2 linked regions of the Homo sapiens genome follow. The protein of the gene in region 1 interacts with the protein of each later gene in a pairwise test. Each region holds a gene or a part of one and is shown on either strand. Other genes may lie near its edges.

What was found. The genes of interacting proteins can lie anywhere in the genome.
Region 2: the proteins of CD6 (region 1) and CD5 come close enough for resonance energy transfer, tested with the Homo sapiens proteins (one study listed by BioGRID).

Annotation. Positions count from the first base shown.
Region 1 is NC_000011.10:61,002,557-61,006,208, reverse strand, and holds part of CD6 (T-cell differentiation antigen CD6 isoform 1 precursor), read right to left. Parts: intron 2,848-3,652; exon of another isoform or gene 1,264-2,847; intron 1-1,263.
Region 2 is NC_000011.10:61,108,895-61,112,546, reverse strand, and holds part of CD5 (T-cell surface glycoprotein CD5 isoform 1 precursor), read right to left. Parts: intron 1-3,652. UniProt on the Homo sapiens protein: Lymphoid-specific receptor expressed by all T-cells and in a subset of B-cells known as B1a cells. Plays a role in the regulation of TCR and BCR signaling, thymocyte selection, T-cell effector differentiation and immune tolerance.

The DNA.
Region 1 (3,652 bases):
AATATTGTGAGACTGAAATGAGACAGCCTATGAAATACTTGACATATAGAAAAAGCTCGAAAGTGGGAGTGATTTAGAAAAAGAAAATTTTGTTTATAGAATTTGTTTGAGAATTTCATATCAGACTTTAGAATAATTGACACATCCTGGACTGGGAACCACTGGATTGCAAAGTGCCTTCAGACACTAAGAAACTAGCATTCATGAAGGACAGGTATTTGCATATTTGCATATATTGTTCCATTTACTTTCTTTCTTTCTTTCTTTTTTTTTTTTTGAGACAGAGTTTCGCTCTTGTTGCCCAGGCTGGAGTGCAATGGCTTGATCTCGGCTCACCGCAACCTCCACCTCCCAGATTCAAGCGATTCTCCTGTCTCAGCCTCCTGAGTAGCTGGGATTACAGGCATGCGCCACCACGCCTGGCTAATTTTGTATTTTTAGTAGAGACGGGGTTTCTCCATGTTGGTCAGGCTGGTCTCGAACTCCTGACCTCAGGTGATCTGCCTGCCTCAGCCTCCCAAAGTGCCGGGATTACAGGCATGAGCCACTACATCCAGCCTATTCCATTTACTTTCAACAATGCAATGAGGCAGGTGTTAGCATTCTTATTTTACAGATTAGGAAAAGGAGGCTCCAAAAGCAAAAATCAGTTGTCCCTGCCAGATAGGGTCCATTTATTCCACCAGAGCTACTATCCATTCTGCCCTGGGAGGCTGATCTGTTTGGATTAACCCCTGTCTTCCTGGGCCTTATGGCTTCTGTCAGATTCAGCCAATGGGGAGCCTTAGCAGAGCTAGGCAGAAGTGAGGAGAGCGAAGATGTGACACTTATTCCTCTGGCCCCCCCTGTGAGGTCCCTCGGGTAGGCTGTGTCCCTCATGTGAAGGACATTGCTTATTCAAGGTGACCTCTCCTTGACTGTCTCCTACTCGGACTCACTGACCACTCCCTGGTTGTGTCTCCTTTGGCCAGAAGTTGCTCTTAGATTCTACTTACTGCATTACCCTTTGTAAATAGTTCTTCTGTAAATAAGTCCCCTTTAAATTCCTATTCTAGGTTTCCTGGTGGGAACCCAACTGATGCGTGGGCCTGAGGCCACCCAGTGAGCAAGCTGCAGAGCCCGGATTTAAACTGTCTCCAAGGACTTGCCTCCCCTCTGGGCTGGGATGTTTGGGCTTGCAAAGCACAAAGGGAGGCTCTGGGGCAGGGACTGTTGTGGTTGCCTATGAACTCCTCTGCATTTCCTGGTTTCTCTTGCACTTAGGTTGGGCTGGTTGAAGCCTAGGCAGAAGACGTCTGCCTGCTTTTGAGCCAAAGCAGGGAAGAGGCAGTGAGCCATTTCCATTTACGTCTTCCCTGTTGAAGGATATTAGAGGCCCTGGGTTGCGGAGGAACTGCAAGAGGGAAGGGGATGTTGACCCAGCTTGGATTTTGTGTGAGTAAGGAGTAAGCCCTTATCATGTTAAACCATGAAGATTTGGGGGTGTCCTTGTTGCTACAGCCTTGCCTAGTCCGGCCTGACCGATACAGAGCCTGAAGACTCGGACATGACCACTACACATTCCTGGAGCTTCACCTGAGCAGATTCCACGGACATACCCCCTGAGCCTGAGCTTGTGCATGTGCGCGTGCACACCCTGGCAGACAGCCCTCTCCAGGAAACCGTGTGGGCCTCTTCATCATCAGGCAGAAAGTCTTCAGCCCTCTAATTGCCGTCCTCGCTAACTCCCTGGCTGGCTGCCCAGCCTGAGCCCCTGGAGGAGAAATGACTCCAAATTCAGAGCATAAACTCTGTGGCTGATGTATTAGAATGTTCAGCGCAAGAATTCAGATGCCCACAAGTTAGGATTTCAGAATCCCGGTTCCCACAGCAACCGTCCCAGTGCTCCTGCGTAGTTTTCAATGTTACTACATGGGGTGGGGGAGGGGGATTGAATGATGGCTGCAGTGTGTATGACTGTGAGGTGTGTGCATATGAGTGTGTGTGAGGGACTGTGTGCATATGTGATTACGACTGTGTGTGTGAATGTGATGTGTGTGGGGCAGGGGGGCTTTAGCTCTGCTCTGTATCATCTCTCTCTCTGGGTCTGGAAAACCACTTTCTCATGCATAAAGACAAAAATGTGTTCTCCTAGATCAGAAAACCCTAGAGGGCAGGGCCCATGGCTGGGTCAGCCCTGTGTCCCCCACAGTGTCCAAGGCAATGTTTGTTGATTGACTGAATGAATGAGCAGCAGCTGCCAGCTCCAAGGCAGCTGGTTGAAAGCGGATAACCTCGAGGGCTTTATTTTTGTGTCAAGCATTCTCCCATCCCCTATCCCAAGAAGGGAACCTGGCTTCTCTGTTCTCTGACTTCTGTGCTACAGGAACAAAAGCAGAAATTACCTGGAACCGTCTTTCCATCCAGGCCTCATTTCACAGAGGGCCGAATGGAAGATCAGCGTTTCTCAGACATCATTATCACCTTTTTTGTTTTGAGACAGTGTCTCGCTCTGTCGCCCAGGCTGGAGTGCAGTGGCACAATCTCGGCTCACTGCAACCTCCACCTCCTGGGTTCAAGCGATTCTCGTGCCTCAGTTTCCCGAGTAGCTAGGACTACAGGCGCTTGCCACGATGCTGGCTAATTTTTGTATATTTTTTGTAGAGACGGGGTTTTCCCATGTTGCCCAGGCTGGTCTCAAATTCCTGAGCTCAAGTGATCTGCCCACCTCAGCCTCCCAAATTGTTGGGATTACAGGCGTGAGCCACCACACCCGGCCCATTGTTACCACTTTTGCCTGGCCCTGTGCCTCACACTTTTCTTTAAATTGGTTCACTTTTTTGCTGCAATAAATTTATTTGAAAAGGAGCCTGCTATGGTTTGAATGTGTTCCAAGGTTCATGTGTTGGAAATTTAATCCCCCAATGACCTGTGTTGAGAAGTTGGATGTTTAAGAATTGATTAGGGCTGGGCGTGGTGGCTCACGCCTGTAAGCCCAACACTTTGGGAGGCCAAGGCGTGTGGATTACCTGAGGTCAGGAGTCCGAGACCAGCCTGGCCAACATGGTGAAACCCTGTCTCTACTACAAATACAAAAATTAGTCGGGTGTGGTGGCACATGCCTGTAATCCCAGCTACTCCGGAGGCTGAGGCAGGAGAATTGCTTGAGCCTGGGAGGTGGAGGTTGCAGTGAGCTGAGATTGCGCCACTGCCCTCCAGCCTGGCCAACAGAGCGAGACTGTGTCTCAAAAAAGAAAAGAAAAGAAAAGAAAAGAGTTGATTAGGTCATGAGGAGTCTGCCTTCATGAACGGATTAATGCTGTTATCACAGGGGTGTGTTGGTTATTGCAGAAGTGGTTTTGTCGTAAAAGTGAGAGTTCCACCGTCCCTCGCTCTGTCTCTCGTGCACTCTCTGGCCATGTGACGCCTTCCATTGTGTTATGATGCAGAGAGAAGGCCCTCATCAGATGTGGCCCCTAGATCTTGGGCTTTCCAGCCTGCAGAACTATAAGAAATAAATTTCTTTTTGTTTTAAATTACTCACTCTGTGGTACTTTGTTATAGCAACACAAAACAGAGTAAGAGCAAACTTTTACCCTTTCCTGTGAATTTGCTTTTTTACATCATTAAAGACACCTGATCATAAAAATGTTCACTGCAGATTTTTTTTTTT
Region 2 (3,652 bases), 110 kb from region 1:
TCAACCTCCCGAGTAGCTGGGACTACAGACATGCACCACCACGCCCGACTAATTTTTGTACTTTTAGTAGAGATGAGGTTTCACCATGTTGGCCAGGCTGGTCTTGAACTCCTGACCTCAGGTGATCCACCCCCCTCAGCCTCCCAAAGTGCTGGGATTACAAGCATGAGCCACCGCGCCCAGCCAATCATCTGATCTATTGCAGTGGGCAGGGCAGCCTCAGGAGGCCATCAGGGAGATGTCCAGCTAGCGAGAGAAATCAGGAAGGAGGCCCTTTTGTCCTGCCCTCACCTCTCACTCCTGACCTCTCATTCCCACCTCCCTCTCATCCCAGCTGCCCATCAGGAGCAGGGCAGTCTGCCTTGAAGGAGTCATCCCTCTGGCTAAGTCTCGAGGGCTAAGGCAGCTTGAAGTGCCACCTGTGGGGAGTGGGAGTCCAAATATCTGCCCTTCAGTGCTACACAGCTCAGGATGGGTTTTCAGTCACCGATGACTTTCTACTGCTCCAGTTCTGAGTATCAGCTCTGCCACTTCCTGCCTATAGAGTCTGGGGAGCACGTCTGTCCTGTCTCTGTGCCTCCAAGCCACGATTTCCTCACTCATAGCATGAGGATGAGCATGGGACTAGCTTTCTAGAGCCGTTGTGAAGATGAGATGAGCTAATCGGTGTAAAGGGCTTAGCCCAGTGCTTCCTGGCCTAGTGCTCAGAGCTGGTGCTACTGATCTGTGGAGTAGGGTGGGCTGGGGGAAGCTGTGCCCAGGGCAGCAGACCCTCGGGGAGCTTTCCCAGTGGGAAGATTCCCTGTCCAGGAGCACAGAGAGCCAAGCCATGGGGCTCACCACTTCCTTCTCCTAACTTGGAAACTTCGCGCAGATGGTCCAGACTTAGGGTGGTTCAACTTACGACTTTTCAAGTTTGCAATGGGTTTGTCGGGGTATTAAATGAATTTTTGACTTAGGATGTTTTCAGCTTACAATGGGTTTATTGAGAGGCAACCCCACTGTAGGTCAAGGAGCATCTCTATTTCCCGAGTCATCATACTCAACGTTCATTATTAACAGCAGCTGCCAACTGTTGAGCACCTGCTGCATACTTAGCCCACGGTATGGTTCATCACAGATATTGTTGTTAATCTTCCACACAGCCCCATCACGAGAGTTGAGTACGTTCCTGGTATAAATGTCAGGAGAGGGCAAATGCCCTGTCCCGGGTAATATGGCTGGCAGGTGGAGTCGAACCATGTGTCTGACTCCAAAACCCATGCTCTCTGCTCCCAGCCACCCAATTGCTCCTCCAGAGTGCCAGCTTTGGAGATGCAGAGATGAACACCACCTGGGTCTGACCTGGAAGCGCTCGTGCAGCCAGACCCTGAAGGCCTGGGGACAGGGACTGGGCCTGACAATCTTGGCAGATTCCACACAGAACAGCCTAGGTCTTGCTCAGAGAACATTCTCAGGAAAGACTGAACAAGCTGGAGAACCAAGTGAAATTCTTTAAAAAATGCTCTAACAAATGCTTTAATAAAAAAGATATTTATGCATTCTAGAGTGTCGCCCTGGAACCTTCCTCTGGGTGCCTGTCTGGTCCCCAGATGAGCAGCAGTTCCTCTCCTCTCCTTCCATCTCTATCACCGTCACCATCATCATCACCATCACCGTCACCATCATCATCACCATCACTGTCACCATCACCAACACTTTAAAAGTTTTCACTCTTCCGGGCCTTTTACACATTAACTCTCCCAGTCCTCACCACAGTGCTATGAAGTAGGTGCTATTATTTTGGTCCCGATTTTACAGACCAGGAAACTTGAGAGGGGTTAAATGACTTGTCCAAGCAGCTAATGAGTGCTGGGGCCCGAACTCAAACCTAGCCGCCTGGCACTGAGTCTTGAGCTTTTGCCAGTGAGGCCCAAACTGCCTCCCTTCCCTCCAGCAGGAAGCCCATGATGGCCTGCCCCAGGTTTCATTGATTCCTGCACCACCCTGGTGTGCAATCCTGATCAAAGGGAATGAACTTGTGATTCCGTTCAGTCAGTAAAACATGCAGTGAGAAGACTTAGCTATGAAGTGCTGTGTGACCTTGGCAAGCCACTCAGCCTCTCTGGGCTCAGTTTCTTAATCTGTAAAGTAAGGAAGTTAGATTCCACAGTCCCTCACCTTCCCCCTGGTTCAAACACCTGTGATCTATAATCTTTAGCTCCTGATGGATTTCAGCAGCTGGTGGAGGGAGGGCGGTGAGATGTACAGCTGACTTGGAAGCTTCCTGAGTGTGTTGTGTATATTCTTTCAGCCTGTCCATGAATATGTTCAGGTTTTTTTTTTATTTGCTTGTTTGTTTTTCACTTATAATCTAGGGAGCAGAATGAACATTGAGGTTTTGAGGGTCCATAACCTATTTCTATTTTTTAGTTGCTTCTCACAGGGGTCAGACCAGCACCCTCCATCCCCTGAGCCCTGCGGTCTGTGTTCAGGGTCTCCCTGACCCCCTCTGGGGGCTCTACAGCTTACTCCTGCACCATCCTTCCTAGCCTCATGAAGCCTGAGGCTCCTGCTATTGCCAAAACTGTGGACAGAATCCCCGAGACTCCAGACCAGGAGGCCCCCGAGGCCTGGAAGTGCTATGCCGTTTCCTTATCCGCCAGCCACCCCTCACCCCGAGCAACTGGGGCTACGGATGAGAATTCTCTGAAGACCCCTTCCTTCTCCTGCCCACCTCCCCTTGCAGCTCCCACAATTTAGGGCCTGGACTGGGCAAACCCAGGCAAAATTCAGGGCTAAAGAAGTCAGACGGCTTATCACACCCCTGGAGCTCCCGTCTCTTGTCTTTGCATTGGCAGAGACAATATTTTTGGCCCTGCCTGCCCTGAGGTCTTGGTGAGGATATCCTCCTCCCTGTCCCTCTCATTCCTCTTGCCCCCACAGTATTCAGGATAATTCTCACTTTGGCTCTCATTACGGCATCCCATGAGTTTTATTTGCTCTGCACAGTGTTTAAAAATTTTTTGAGCCAAATTAAAAAAAAAAAGGTTTCTTTTAATTTTGTTTTGCTTTTTAAACACATTTCAAGATCCAGGCGTTTTTGAAAAATAGGACATCCTGGCTCCACTGGCTGCATCTCTGGAGGCCCCAGGCAGTGGCGGTGGCCCTTGACTTCTGTTTCGTCCACGCCTCGCTGGCACCTTACGGTCGCCATGTGTGTGGAGAGACCTGGCTTCAAACACATGGCAGTGTCTGCAGCGAAACATATGCAGTTTCACACTAAGGGGGATGTGTCAAGATTATAAATAGCCTCCCATTCGTTCAGGTCAGGATTTGCACCAAATGCATTTGCCAGAAACTTACAAATGTTTTTTGGGCTTTGGAATTACAGATGAATATTTGTTGACTTGCATGATGGGTCCCAGTTTACAGAGGAGGAGGCTGTCGTGGTGCATGGGAGTGAGAACTCGGCAGGGCCAGAATTCAGCCCAGGGCGGCTGGCTTTGTAACCTGCACTCCTGGCCCCTGCCTCTGGCTCACTCCTAGGTCCTGCCGCCCCTGCACCCTGGGAAATGGAGGCAAGGGTGTGGCCTGCTTAGGGTTTGGCAGGCACCCGGATTCACAGGCCTGTGATAATGACCGATGATAATAAAATGACAGCATCCTTACC